Homo sapiens: one gene and its partners. The protein of the gene in region 1 purifies or fractionates together with the protein of each later gene. This does not show direct contact. Each region holds a gene or a part of one and is shown in the gene's direction. Other genes may lie near its edges.

Region 1 (3,918 bases):
ATCAGTGTATATTTTAAGAGTGTGTTTTAGTCATCAGTAATCTAACAACCCATATATTGCTTCTCTAGAGAAAACAGATTGATAATGGTTTTAGAAAAATCATTGTTATTTATTTATTTATTTATTTATTTTTTTCTTAAGAGATAGGGTCTTGACTGGGCGTGGTGGCTCACGCTTGTAATCCCAGCACTTTGGGAGGCCAAGATGGGCAGATCATGAGGTCCAGAGATCGAGATCATCCTGGCCAACATGGCGAAACCCCATCTCTACTAAAAATACAAAAATTAGCTGGGCATGGTGGCGCATGCCTGTAGTCCCAGCTACTCAGGAGGCTGAAGCAGGAGAATTGCTTGAACCTGGGAGGAGGAGGTTGCAGTGAGCTGAGATCGTGCCACTGCACTGCAGCCTGACGGCAGAGCAAGACTCAGTCTCAAGAAAAAAAAAGAAGACAGAGTCTTACTCTCTCACCTAGGCTGGAGTACAATGGCACAGTCACAGTTTACTGCAGCCTTCACCTCCTGGGCTCAAGCGATCCTCCTGCCGCAGCCTCCCAAGTAGTTGGAACTACAGGTGTGCACCACCACGCCTGGCCAAGTTTTAAAATTTTTAAATAAAGGCAGGGTCTCACTGTTGCCTAGGCTGGTCTTGAACTCTTAGTCTCAAGTGACCTCTTCCTAGGTGGGCCTTCCAAAGTGCTGAGATTACAGGTGTGAGTGAGTCACTGTGCCCGGCCAAAAACACATTCTTTTCTTTCTTATTTATTGAAGAAAACTTTAAGTCAGAGAAAACCCTATAATTTTATCAGCCTAACTCAGTTGTTTTATTTTTTGTATAGTTCTGTATTTTGCCAAATGTTTTTGATAAGTTTATTATATTTAGTAGTTTTTAAATAATTTTATAATATTAGCTAAATGGAAAAGCAGAGAAGACCATATATCAGAAATATTGATGATCCAGAAAGACCACCTGTCTTTATCACACACTTTGTTGTGAATAGGATTAAAATAACCTTCGACCAGACACAGTGGCGCACGCCTGTAATCCCAGCACTTTCGGAGGCCAAGGCAGGCGGATTACAAGGTCAGGAGTTTGAGACCAGCCTGACCAACATGGTGAAACCCTGTCTCTACTAAAAATACAAAAATTAGCTGGGCGCGGTGGTGTGCACCTGTAATCCCAGCCACGGGGGCTGAGGCAGGAGAATTGCATGAACCCGGGAGGCAGAGGTTACAGTGAGCCGAGATCACGCCACTGTGCCCTAGCCTGGGCGACAGAGTGAGACTCCGTCTCAAAAAAAAAAAAAAAAAAAAAGAATCCTTCTAACTGTGCGCAATGGCTCACGCGTGTAATCCCACCACTCTGGGAGGCCAAGGCAGGTGGATCACCTTAGGTCAGGAGTTCAAGACCAGCTTGGCCAACATGGCGAAACCCCGTCTCTACCAAAAATACAAAAATTAGGCGGGCATGGTAGCGCATGCCTGTAATCCCAGCTACTCGGGAGGCTGAGACAGGGAATTGCTTGAACCCTGGAGGCGGAGGTTGCAGTGAGCTGAGATCGCGCCATCGCAGTCCAGCCTGGGCAAGGAGAGAAACTCTGTCTCAAAACCAAAAAAAAAAAGAGAATCTTCCTGTTGTAGAGTTGTTTTTTTTTTTTTTTTGAGGCGGAGTCTCGCTCTGTCACCCAATCTGGAGCGCAGTGGCGCAATCTGAGCTCACTGCAACCTCTGCCTCCCGGGTTCAAGCGATTCTCCTGCCTCAGCCTCTTGAGTAGCTGGGATTACAGGTGTGCACCACCACGCCTGGCTAATTTTTGTGCTTTTAGTAGAGACGGGGTTTCGCCATGTTGGCCAGGCTGGTCTCGAACTCCAGACCTCAAGTGGTCCACCCGCCTCGGCCTCCCAAAGTGCTGGGATTACAGGTGTGAGCCATCGCACCTGGCCAAGTTGATATTTTATATAATGCTCCTATACTTAGTCCTTCTTCCCTAGTTGTCTTGATTTTTTTTCTTAGGTGACGGAGAAATCTGTTTTTTCCCCAAGTCCTCCTCCTCCTTTTATAATGAAGGCTTATGGAAGTAGTGGAGAGTAAAGGTGGACAGTTGTAATACCTGAAACTTGATTTCAGATTAGTCAGGCTAGAAATGTAGACTAAGTGGAAACATGCTGCTACTTTTGAAAATGTCATTTGGTGTCAAAGAGGGCAATGACTTTAGCTTTTTCTTTCATGAATATAGTAAGTTAATGTAAATTTAGTAATCATACCATTTGTAAGGTAGAGTATAAATTAACAGACCCAGAGAATTTTAGAGCTGGAGGAGACCAAAGAGGTCATCTAGTCCAATAACATTTGTGTTTTATTGTGATGAATCATTCTGAAGACTCCTTAACATGTAGTGAATGTTTGTCTTAATGAGGTTGCTGCAGGATGAGTTGTATATGATGGAAGGATGAAGACAGCTCTGATTAATTAATGACTCATCTCCCATTTTGACAGCTCTTTGTTTGTTTATTTTTTAGGTAAAATTTACATGTGAAATGCCAGATCTGATGTCCAATAATTTCTTTTGCTGTTGAGGAAACAAAGTGCTAGAATGATTGCATGACTTAAGCAGTGTCTCACAGCTAACTAATGATAGATTAAGGACTGGAAACTGAGTGTGTCCACCTCTTAGTCTGGAGGTCATTCCTTTAGTAACTCCTTCAGGAGTCTACTCTAGAACCTTGCATGCATGTATTATTTTTTATATAGCCAACTGTAAATATACATAAAGTTTTACAGCAAATCTTGACTTTGTTGCCTTTAATGTTTGATTTGTGATCTTTTTGTAATTTTCTTTATTTATATGTGTTATCTACTCTTGTTTCTCTCTTAATGCATGACACATCAGAACAGGTTGAGTATCCCTCATCCAAAATGCTTGGTATCAGAAGTGTTTTGGATTTCAGATTTTTTTGGATTTTGGAATATTTGCATATACATAATGAGGTATCTTGGAAAGGACCCAAGTTTAAACATGAAATTCATTTATGTTTCATAAGTACCTTACACACATAGTCTGAAGGTAATTTTAAACAATATTTTTAATAGTTTTGTGCATGAAACAGTTTTGACTGCATTTTGACTGACTCGTCACATTAAGTCGGGGTGGAATTTTCCACTTGTGACATTATGTATGTTGGTGCTCAAAAACTTGGATTTTGGGGCATTTCGGATTTTCAGATTTTTGTATTTCAGATTTTCCTAGTAGGGATGCTCAAGCTGTATACCACTTCTCATTCAATTAGCAAATACATTTGTAAAGAGGGCACATAAGTAAGTTCTAATTTGTTGAGAATTCTTCATATACAATGTGCTATTTTCTCTTAATGTTGTTTAGGTAGAAATGTGTGCATTCAAGACCTTGGGAGCAGATTATCAACTGAATTTATGCTTTTATCATTATTGTAATCATATTGTTAATACAAGGCAATTTGAAACCATAATTGTCTGCCTCAAAAATTGCTTGGTATCATGGATTTTGTGAAGGGGAAGGAAATCTTATGAGGAAGAAACTTTTAGTTTTATTTATAAGCCCATTTTTGTAGGCAAGAATTAAGTATTGATGTGAAGATTGTTTATGTTTCAGTGATACGGTCTCCTTCACCCCAATTATATGGCCTTTTTGAGAGAGATTAGAAAAATTGTGGCTTAGTTCAACAAAGATTGAGTTAACTCGTGTGCCAGGTTACTAGAATTATGGATCCAGCATCTACCTTCAAGACTCTTACAGTCTAGTGCAATTAAAGAGAAAGAAACAGATTATTTAATACAATTTAAGAGCTAAATTAGAGATAATCACAGGGTTTACACAGGTTTGAGGCTATAGAGGTGGTTACTTATACATGATACTTGGGCTGAGTTTTAAACAATGAAGATAAT
Region 2 (3,918 bases), on another chromosome or scaffold:
ATAGGTGATTGATCTAGATAACTAGCTTTTTTTCTTCTGACTCTTGAGATTAGATAGATAAATAGTAGATGAACTTTAGATAGAAATGGAAAACTTTAAAACAAATAACCTCACTAATATATTATTCACCAAAAGCTTGAACTTCTGTCATGAAGTTGTTTTCTAACTAGTTTTGAAGGGTAAGTGCATTGTCAGTCTATCTTGATTTTTAGATTAATTATTAGAATTTGAAGTTTGTTCTAAAGTGTATATAATTTGCCACATAGAATTTAAATACAAAGGCATAATGGTATATTACAATTCAGACTTAGACAAATCTTGTTTTAAATCTTCAGGTTTGTTAACTACATAACCTTGGGCAAATTTCTTAACCTCTGTAGGCTTCATGTTCCATTTCTGAAAAATTTTAAAGATAATACTCAAGAATGTTGTAAAAATCAAGTGAATTGATATGTAAAGCACCTTTCACAACTCTGACACAAAATGTTAGACTAACATTTATAGTTAATTGCTCCCATATCATCTTTATCACACTAGAGTCAATAAATAAAGTTGTATGTTTATATATAACATTTAAAATACATTAACCTTGCTAACTGAAAGTCCAGATTTATGTATCATGGAAAAAGACTGAAAGCTTAATTGAAGGCAGTTCTAGGTTTAAGTTCTGTCTGTAAAAAAACTTTTATCTTGACCAATTTTTACAATTTCTTACAAGTTTTTAAATATTTTATAGTTTAGTGATAAGAAATGTATACATTATTCAGATGCAGTTATACTATTATTTCTGAAGCATATCAATGCACTTTTTCCTTCATGTCTGAAGGAGAATTTTTGTCTGAAGGCTTATTAACTAGGATAATTTTTCCATCTGATTATTTTTAACACTTTCCTGTTTCATATAACATTGGTTGATTTAATGGACTCTGGGCTCAATATATTTTATTGGGCCTTGAAATTTACTGAACTTATTTATTTTTCTAATAAAAAGAGGATTAGCAAGCTGAAGAGAGTATGTGAATGATGTTAAGGGAGAAAGAGAAGACCACATAAAAGTATAAATCAATATTTTACCACCAGTTTTTGAAGTAAGTAAAGGCTCTAGTAATTGTAAATTGACCACTTGCTTTTTGTTATCATCCCAGTAGTATTCATGTAAGATAGTCTCTAGGATTAAATTGTTATTTTTGTGTAATTTAACAAAAGCGTACTTATTCTTACTTTAATCAGGATATATCTGTTTTCCCAGATAGTCCATGAAAGAACAGAGATGGTCATACCCAAAATATTTGTGTTGTATCATCTTTAGAAGCAATGAACTTTTTACCCCTATAAAGCTAAATATGTATACTTTATAGGCACAAAAATATAGAAATAATACTGGTCTGAAAAATTGAATACTCATACTTAGATTCAAACCTAGATTTTAGATTAACTACTAGCAAGCTAAACAACTGTGTGGGACAAGTTTTTAAGCTTTCTTTTCATCTTTCGTAAATAAGTAGCTTGGATTATATAATTTCTTATTTTTTTCTAGTATTACTATATTGTCACTTATTAATATTTCTATCACATTGTAAGAAAATGTGAAACCACCACAACTGTTACTTCTATCGAATTATTTTTCTAGGCTCAAGACCACCTTTAATCCTACAATCTCAGTCTCTACCTTGTTCATCACCTCGAGATGTTCCACCAGATATCTTGCTAGATTCTCCAGAAAGAAAACAAAAGAAGCAGAAGAAAATGAAATTAGGCAAGGATGAAAAAGAGCAGAGTGAGAAAGCGGCAATGTATGATATAATTAGTTCTCCATCCAAGGACTCTACTAAACTTACATTAAGACTTTCTCGTGTAAGGTCTTCAGACATGGACCAGCAAGAGGATATGATTTCTGGTGTGGAAAATAGCAATGTTTCAGAAAATGATATTCCTTTTAATGTGCAGTACCCAGGACAGACTTCAAAAACACCCATTACTCCACAAGATATAAACCGCCCACTAAATGCTGCTCAATGTTTGTCGCAGCAAGAACAAACAGCATTCCTTCCAGCAAATCAAGTGCCTGTTTTACAACAGAACACTTCAGTTGCTGCAAAACAACCCCAGACTTCTGTGGTACAGAATCAACAACAGATATCACAACAGGGACCTATATATGATGAAGTGGAATTGGATGCATTGGCTGAAATTGAGCGAATAGAGAGAGAATCAGCTATTGAAAGGGAGCGCTTCTCAAAAGAAGTTCAAGATAAAGGTAAAATAATCTCATTATTACCACTTCATCATCTGGGCAAATATGTAATTATAGTGTCAAAAATTTTTTTCACATTACTTTTTTCCCGAATATTTTGTATAATTTATGTCTACTCAAGTACATATTTTTATTACTAATACTCATAATGCAGAAGTTAAATTCGTAACAATTTCATTTATTGTCTGAAACAACTATATGAGATTTGGTAATTCTCTACTACAGGTCTGTTACTCATTATGTACTATATGATTTTACTTATTTGTGCTTTTCTGCTAAAATGAACATTAGCATTTCTATATAACATGTATATTTCACAAGTTACATTAATATTGTTGTGCACCTTCAAATTTTTTTCTGCTAAAACAAGGTTAACCACTGTAGAATTATTTTGAACAGGTACACTTAAGAAAAGCTCATGTGTATGCTTATTAGGCAGTTAGATATTTCACTTGGTTTATGATCCTACTGGCTTAATAATGTCAAATTTTTTTAGTAAACAAATCATGGAAAGAGTTAATATTAAATAGCAAACCTTAGAAATTAAGAGTCTTTTGGTGGTAATTACAGTGAAGTGTTCCCTTTTGTCTGACTAGTATGTTAGGATGGAGTTTCAAGACATACCTGGTCTATGAGTTTATGAGCTTTCCTTGCGCTTCATAATCAAACAAAAATAAATTCATAGTAAGTTCTTAGTAATTTGGTATACACTGTATACAAAATTTCTTTCATGTTTTAAGAGACTGATGAATCAGTGATTCAAATTAGCAATATAATTGATGAATTTGATTGCTATATAAATGCATATACACATTTGATCAGACCAAAAGCATGCTTTATGATTTAATTTTATGATTAAAATATTTTAGGTTGATTTTCAGTTCTTATATTTTATTTCTTGGTAATGATAAAACTTCTTGATATTGGGTAGAGCTGATTTTTATATATGATGTGTTCAGTGTTTGACAGGATCATGACAAGATAATTGTGTTTCTATGCTAAGAAACATGCTGAAGATTAGTATTATATTTCCTGTCTGTCATGATGGCTCATTTTAATGTTATTGAAAAAAAATGGACTGTATTTAGTAATTGTTGTACTACAATGTTTGCAACATATGTAAATCAGAAATAGATGCAAATAAAGAGATTGCTAGAAGTCTTCATTTTACTGGCTAGGGAGCTGGGTTTTTTTTTCTTTGTCTTTTTTTTTTTTTAATATAGATTCAGGGGATATATGTACAGGGGTTTGTTACGTGGGTATATTGTGTGGTGGTGAGATTTGGGCTTGTAGTGAACCCGTCACCCAAATAGTGATCATAGTACCCATTAGATAGTTTTTCAACCTTGGCTTCGTCCCTTTTTCCCCCTTTTTGAGTCCCCTGTGTCTGTTGTTTCTAACTTTATGTCCGTGTGTACCCATTGTTGAATTCCCACTTATAAGTGAGAACCTGTAGTGTTTCATTTTCTGTTTCTGCATTATTTCACTTAGGGTAGATAATGGCCTCAAACTGCATCCATGTTGCTGCAGAGGACATGATTTCATTCTTCTTTATGATTGTGTACCACGGTGTATATATACCACATTTTGTTTATCCAGTCCACTCCTGATGGACGCTTAGGTTGATTCTGTAACTTTGCTATTGTAAATAGTGCTGTGATAAA
Region 3 (3,918 bases), on another chromosome or scaffold:
AATACAAACACTGTCCCAGACTCAAGGAGTTGACTCAATACTTTAAATTGCCATTTTTTTTTTTTTTTTAGTATAGAACACAAGATCCATAACAGTATAAGAGAAAAGACAATAAGGGCTGGAATAAACAAAAAGGGTTGTCTAGTATGTGTGAGACATAAGTTGGAGGAGGAGAAGGTGAATTTCAGGACAGGGTGGCAACTTGAGAGGTAGAGGTGGGAGGGAAAGTATCATTAGCAGTAATGTGAAGAGACTGGTGTAGAGGAAGATGCTGGAAAGAGATAGGTAACATCTTTGTATGGGTACAAAGGGCCCAGCTATGCATGTTAGGTTAAAATGTTTAAATGTTCTGGGGTACTAATTATATTTTTTTATTTACAGTTTTCATAGTGAAGTAAAAGTATTTGCCATATTGTCACCATTGGATTAAAACTCTTCTATATTTGTGAGTTTGAGAGTTGGGGGAAGTATTCGTTTGTTTGTTTGTTTGTGTTTGTTTTTGAGACAGGGTCTTGCTCTGTTGCTCAGGCTGGAGTACAGTGACACTATCAGGGGCTCACTGCACCCTTGACCTCCCGGACTCAAGTGATCTCCCACATCTCAGCTTCCTGAGCAGCTGAGACTACAGGCACATGCCACCACACCCAGCTGATTTTTGTATTTTTTGTAGAGGCAGGGTTTCACCATGTTGGCCAGGCTGGTTGCAAACTCCTGGGCTCAAGCTGTCCACCTGCCTCAGCCTCCCAGAGTGCTAGGATTTCAGGCATGAGAGTTGTGTTAAATAACCATTTAGTCTAGTAATGGTATTTTTAAATCTCTGATTCCACTGGGCTTTGGATCAAGTGGCAAAGTCCCTACTTTAGAAGCAAGTGTCAAAGAAAAATCACACTGGACACATTAAAAAGGCAAGAAAGGCTTTATTTAAGACCATTGCAAAGGGGTCAAGACTGTTACAACAGAGGACAAAAATTGAACTCAACTACTCCAAAACAAAAGGTTGGAGTGTTTGTGCTTGCTGAGGTGAGCTACTGGAAAAGTCCTAGAGGACATTAGCCCGGAAGTTGGTTTGTGTGCTTAGGCCATCTCTGTTTGCTAATTGGTTCTTATTGAAGTTAGGCTTCTATCTTCTCACGGAGACTGGAAGATAGGGCTGCTGTTTTTCTTGATGTTTATATTTCAAAGGGATGCCTTCCATGTCCTTGAGAAAGATACTCCTTGGTTGTAGAAGATTTACATCTCAAAGGTGCAGAGGAAGAATTTACAATTGCAAGTTTTCTAAAGTGAGAGCTGTAAGAAAAGAGCGGTCAGGGTCTTATAGTCAGGAAGGAACTTTCTACAAGTTTAGTCAAGTTGAGGGGAACATTAGGCCATTTTGATAAGAAGATACTTTTTTAGTGATTTTGTTATGTGGAGCCAGCCCTTGAACGCTGGTAACTCTTGGAAATATAAAATAAAAAAAAGTTCAATTAATTGTTTTTAGGACAAAAATATTATGTGTATAATTACCTGTCAAATAACCCAAGGGGAGATCTTTATTTTGTTTCTCTCTGGATCTCAAGTGCTTTTTGTTACTTTTGTTCCTTATCAGAAAAACTATGTCCTGAGGCTTTTCTTCTTCAGACAATGCTTTAACGTAAAATTGAGGTTCATATGCTGCTACAAGTCTCATTTAACTTTCCATTTTTATTTAAGGAACCAAATGGACTTTCAGGCTGCCTTTATGCTGGTAATTAGGGCAACTTGTTGTGAATTTCAATGTGTTTGAGTGGTAGCACATATTAATACATTACACTTTCTCTCAATTTCATCACTATTCAAGTGCAACATCCTACACAGTATAAGCATTTTGAAATTCAGAACCTTGTGGATGACCCAGACTATAATAACTGCAGCAGTTCAGCTTACAATTTTATGGTGCTTTATTATTTTTAATCACTTTTAAACGTGTAATCTCATTTTGTCCTCCGGGTAAACACAGTGGTAGGATTTATTTTACAGAGGCTGCCATACAAATGGCAAGACTTGACTCTGGCCTCTGGCTCCTAGCTTAATGTCTCATTCGAAAGTTGTGAAGAATTTTTTAGATCTAGATATTTAATCAGCCTGCACTTGAAAATCACTATACTTCCCTTTTTTAAGTGCTAAATTGGGATACTTCTCAAATATTCAGTTATTTATAGGAAGCCTTCATAATTATTGAAGTCCATTAAATCTATTGGGTCATCTTGCCATAGGCATAAGGATTCAAGCTAAAGGCACATGATTTTGTTTAAAAATAAAGATTACAATAAAATAAGATTAACAAAAGTACTTTTATACTTCCAGAACAAAAACTCAAAAATACCCTGTGGCATTGAAAATAAGAATCATTTCTGAAAACTTCTGCGTATGCTTTGGCATATCTTAGAACTTTCTATATGTCTAATATAATATAACAAATATTTCTGTGTTAATATCCATCCAAAAAGAAATGATTTGACACACTGTATATAGGCAGAAAAACATAATTTTGAATATTTCATTCTGAAATAGACACCAAGAAAAATTTTGTTAAATTTATTTACCCTAATTGCTTATGTTTGAAATATGTGTTCTGTCATCAGGCAACCCTGCTCAGCCCACTTCCCTCCACTACATGAATCCTTACCAACTGAATGCCTATGGTATGGCACTAAAAGCAGTGGGAGAAATTGTTCAAGATTATGACAGTGATAAAATGTTTCCAGCTCTAGGATTTGGTGCAAAACTGCCTCCAGATGGAAGGATATCTCACGAATTTGCTTTGGTAAGAATTTGTCAAAAGGATTTGATGTTTTGAAAAATTAATGTTAGACCTTTTAATATTGCTTTGGTACTTATTCTTTAGTCAGTCAAGTAGCAAGCTTTACTGACTGTAGCTTAATTTTGGTAAGTAATTGACTTTGGAGTGTGAACTTAATGGGAAAAAAGGACAGCTAAATAGCTTAGCCATAAATCTACCTGAAGTGCACCCACCTGATTTACAAATGGGGGTCTATTTTGGTTATCTATTGCTTGCTAACAAACCTTCCTAAAACTTAGAGATATCAAACAATATCATTCTATTATGCTTATGATTTGTGCCTCAGGAATTCAAGCAGAATATAATGGGAGACAGCGCATTTTTGCTTTGCAGTACCTGGAGTCTCAGCTTAGGTGACTTGAATGGCTAGAGATGCCTGGAATTGGTGACTGGGGCCATATTTTTCAACTTAGTTCTGGCTGTCTTTTGAATTCCTTAGATCTTCTCCATGTTATGTCTTCTGGGGCTGATATGTCTCCTAACATAACTTCTTTGCTCATGTTCATTCATGTCTTGGGCCTGAGCTTGGATAGCTGAAAAGCTGGGGTTGCCTGGACAACTCTCCCTTGTTTTACATATGGCCTGTCTCTGTAGTTATGGAGGGCTTCAGAACTGTATAGTGGTCTCACTGTAGCAAGATTTCTTATGTAGCAGCCAGCTTTCCCAGGGTGAGTAATCTAAAAGTCTAGGACAGAAACTCCAAGGATGTTTATATCATATTCTTAGAAGTCCCAAAATGTTATTTCTGCAACATCCTATTGGTCAGGCAAGTTACTAAGACCATCCCAGGTTCAAGGTAGAGGAATTAACCTTCACTTCTCAATGGGAAGAGTATCAAAGAATGTGTGGCTCTCTGTAATGTACCATCATTTTTAAAACCTAAGAAAAGAAATAATTGTGTTAAACTAAATGAGGTTTATTAATTTTCCTTTCATATGTTTCTTCTCACCATTGAATGTTTCCCTTTCTCTGTCTCTGTAATTCTCTCCTTTGCTGCCTTTCCTGCCTCTGTGTTCATTCCTTGTAACCAAACCTATACAAATATATACTGGTTTAGCCTCCAAAATCAGAAAAGTAAATGTTCCAAAATCTGAAAC
Region 4 (3,918 bases), on another chromosome or scaffold:
GTCAGGATCTTGTGATCCTGGCTAACAAGGTGAAACCCCGTCTCTACTAAAAATACAAAAAATTACCTGGGCGCGGTGGCAGGCGCCTGTAGTCCCAGCTACTCAGGAGGCTGAGGCAGGAGAATGTCATGAACCCAGGAGGCGGAGCTTGCAGTGAGCCGAGATTGTGCCACTGCACTCCAGCCTGGGCGACAGAGCGAGACTCCGTCTCCAAAAAAAGAAAAATTTCATTTTCTGTTTGTTGTTAGAAAAGGATTACATTAAAACTCAAATTGTACCAGGGCCAGCCACCAAAACTAATATGTGAAAAAAAATATAGAAGTGTTAAAATGCAAATTGTATCCTAAAACATTACATGGATTGTTTGATTGTTTGGGTGGTAGAAATAGATAATAGGAAAATTGTGCCTCTGTTTCATAAGTGGGCTTTAATAAATGACAGTGCTCTAGATTCAAAATACTGCTTGACAGGCAAATGAAAGTTAATGAATAGTATAAAATCAGACATAATGGTTGAATTTTTGACGATAGGGAATACTACTGAATATTGTGTTATGGTGCTAGTCTGTTGGCATTACTAAACTTTATAATATTTGTCTCTTTTATTTAACTCAGGTGAAAAGGATTCAATGATTTTTGATTGTACTGAATGCTATGATCCAGTTACTAAACAGTGGACAACTGTAGCTTCGATGAATCATCCCCGCTGCGGCTTAGGAGTGTGTGTGTGTTATGGGGCTATCTATGCTTTGGGTAATTATGTTGTTCAGTTTAAAGATAGCTAATATTGTTTATGTATTTTTAATTTTCATTTTTGTGGATACATAATAGGTATATATATTTATGGGGCACATGAGATACAGGCACATAATGCGTAATAATCACATCTTGTAAAATGGGATATCCATCTCCTCAAGTATTTATCCTTTATGTTACAAACAATCCAGTTATACTCTTCTAGTTATTTTTAAATGTACAATTAAATTATTGACTATAGTCACCCTGTTGCACTATCAAATACTAGGTCTTATTCATTCTTTTTTTTTTTTTTTTGTATTCATTAACCATGCCCACCTCCTCCCTCCCCACCCCCACTACACTACCCTTCCCAGCCTCTGGTAACCATCCTTCTACTCTCTATCTCCATGAGTTCAATTGTTTTGATTTTTAGATCCCACAAAGAAGTGAGAATATGCAATGTTTATAAAGATAGCTAATATTATTTAAATTATTGGGTTCTGATGACTTTGGAGATGTTCTTTCCCTCTTTTCAGCTCTTTACATTCTTTTTTTAAAAACCAACTGGCTTTAATCTGTATACTCTGGAGGCTGGGCAAGGTCTTAGGGGAAGGTGTAGGTGGGGGTCAGCTGGTCAGGGATTGGAGGGGGTGCTCCTGGGCTGTCCATCCTAAGGAGGCACTCAGGCGGGGGATGGTACAGGAGGACCTGAGCACCTGCAGGGCAGAGCCTTGTTGGGCAGATGCATCAGTTCTTGGGCAGATGGTAGATGCCTGCCTGGCCAGTTGGCTGGCTGACCAAGCTGCTAGTCACACACATTCTTCTGCAGGTATCTCTGGAGCTACTGTATGCTGTAGATGCACTTGTCAGCTCTTTAAATTCTTATTCTCAAAATTGTATTACTGGAGATAAAATATAGATGAGACATCCAGTGAAGTACTTTAGCTGAGTAGTTAAATCTCATTATTTTAATTAAGCATATAACATTTTTACCACCCTGCATAGTGGCCTAATTATGTCTAATATAAGAAAGCACATACCAAAAAATTAAATATATCACAAGGAAGTTCTGTACTATATTATTTTTATTCTTGTATATGTAGTGAATGATTATGAGCAAGGTATTCTACTTTGATTATCTGTGTAACAAATGTTACAATCAAGGTTGTTCCTAGGGAAAGTTATAAGTTGATGTAGCTCTCAGCCTCCCCTATTTTCTCCTTCTCACTCCTTCTTCAGTTCACTGTAACTCAGTGTCTTCCCCTCATCCAAACCTATTGTGGAAAAAATATCAGTTACCTTAAGGTGAATTTAATCTATTATATTTTATTACCTCCATAAGTATCTGCATTTTTCAGTTAATTGTGGGAAATAATATTTTCAGTTTTAAGAATTGGAGAGTGTTGGCTGGACATGGTGGCTTACGCCTGTAATCCCAGCACTTTGGGAGGCTGAGGCGGGCGGATCATGAAGTCAGGAGATCGAGACCAACTTGGCTAACATGGTGAAACCCTGTCTCTACTAAAAATACAAACAAAATTAGCTGGGCGTGGTGGTGGGCGCCTGTAGTCTCAGCTACTCCGGAGGCTGAGGCAGGAGAATGGCATGAACCCAGGAGGTGGAGCTTGCACTGAGCCTGAGCCGAGATTGCACCACTGCACTCCAGCCTGGGTGACACAGTGAGACTCCATCTCAAAAAAAAAAAGAATTGGAGAGTGTTAAGAAAATGTTATTGTGGGGATAAGGGGCCTTTTTGAAATTCCTGAAATTACACCAAATACACGGTATACTCTGATTAGGTTTGGAGCTGGCCTTGATTAGGATAAACATTCTAAATAGCCAGAAGTAATTTCAAAAGGTAGTTTTGCAAAATACCATCTTTTCCATGCAATATATTGAAGTTTTGGGGCTTTTGTTGTTTTGTTTTGTTTTAGTCTTTAGTGAAAAATAGGGAGTTAAAAGACTTGAATTCCTTTTTTTTTTTTTTTTTTTTTTTCTCAAAAGAGCATCAGTTATGCAAAGGACCTGAGTTCTACTCATGGTCAAATTCTAACTTTTTCATGGGATCGTGGAACAGATAACCTCTTTGGCTCATGTGATATCTATAATATGAAGTATTTGGTTTAGATGTTTTCTAAGGTCTTTGTCATAAATAAGAATCTTTTATCCCGGAAACAAACATTTTTCTATTTCATTACAGGTGGATGGGTTGGAGCTGAGATAGGGAACACCATTGAACGATTTGATCCTGATGAAAATAAATGGGAAGTAGTTGGTAACATGGCTGTGTCACGCTACTACTTTGGGTGCTGTGAAATGCAAGGTAATCACTTTATAAAATATTTTTCCTCAAAATGTAGTTCTGAAAAACTGTTTGAGTTTGAGGCCTTATTTTCACAAAAGTATATTTTAAGTCTGTTAGTATTGAATGACTGATACTAGCAGCATAGAAGTTCTGCTTTTTACCTCCTATCATTGACTTTTATTTCTGTATTGCTAAAATAATTGATTTGATTTTTTCAGAAATAAACAAGGCTAGAATTAAAAATTGTAAGTAAGCAGGAATATCTGACTAGCACAATAAACATTTGAAGTGTTATCTGTTATTGTCTTTTCTCTCCCATGAACATCTAAGTAAATATTTCTAAGTAGGGAGAGAGTATCAGAAACAGTTTTTGGGTGTGGTGGCTCATGCCTGTAATCCCAGCACTTTGGGAGGCTGAGGCAGGAGGATCACCTGAGGTTAGGAGTTCGAGACCATCCTGGCCAACGTGGTGAAACCTCATTTCTACTAAAAATACAAAAATTAGCTGGGCATGTTACTACACACCTGTAATCCCAACTACTAGGGAGGCTGAGGCAGGATAATTGCTTGAACCCAGGAGGCAGAGGTTGCAGTGAGCGAGATGGTGCCACTGCACTGCAGCCTGGGTAACAGTGAGACTCTATCTCAAAAAATAAATAAAAATAAATTATTTTCATGGTCTATAGGCTTCTTTAGCGTTTTTTTTCTACAAAGTACATTGTGATGCCGCTCACATAACATATAATCCTGTGACAGATTTAAAGGATTCTATGTTGCATATTAAAGTGGTATACAAACATTATTTTAATTGTCTACTATACTCTTGAGAGGTAGGTAGTAAGCTGTTTTAACTAGAACCTAATTCTCTGTGTAGGA

What was found.
Region 2: the proteins of CTDSPL2 (region 1) and NIPBL purify together in Homo sapiens (affinity purification with mass spectrometry, with the first as the bait; one large-scale study listed by BioGRID). This does not show direct contact.
Region 3: the proteins of CTDSPL2 (region 1) and CPNE8 purify together in Homo sapiens (affinity purification with mass spectrometry; one large-scale study listed by BioGRID and IntAct). This does not show direct contact.
Region 4: the proteins of CTDSPL2 (region 1) and IPP purify together in Homo sapiens (affinity purification with mass spectrometry; one large-scale study listed by BioGRID and IntAct). This does not show direct contact.

Annotation. Positions count from the first base shown.
Region 1 is NC_000015.10:44,433,967-44,437,884, forward strand, and holds part of CTDSPL2 (CTD small phosphatase-like protein 2), read left to right. Parts: intron 1-3,918. UniProt on the Homo sapiens protein: Probable phosphatase.
Region 2 is NC_000005.10:36,974,146-36,978,063, forward strand, and holds part of NIPBL (nipped-B-like protein), read left to right. Parts: intron 1-1,630; coding exon 1,631-2,257; intron 2,258-3,918. UniProt on the Homo sapiens protein: Plays an important role in the loading of the cohesin complex on to DNA. Forms a heterodimeric complex (also known as cohesin loading complex) with MAU2/SCC4 which mediates the loading of the cohesin complex onto chromatin.
Region 3 is NC_000012.12:38,692,524-38,696,441, reverse strand, and holds part of CPNE8 (copine-8), read left to right. Parts: intron 1-381; coding exon of another isoform or gene 382-398; exon of another isoform or gene 399-530; intron 531-2,603; coding exon 2,604-2,785; intron 2,786-3,918. UniProt on the Homo sapiens protein: Probable calcium-dependent phospholipid-binding protein that may play a role in calcium-mediated intracellular processes.
Region 4 is NC_000001.11:45,716,037-45,719,954, reverse strand, and holds part of IPP (actin-binding protein IPP), read left to right. Parts: intron 1-614; coding exon 615-752; intron 753-2,937; coding exon 2,938-3,060; intron 3,061-3,918. UniProt on the Homo sapiens protein: May play a role in organizing the actin cytoskeleton.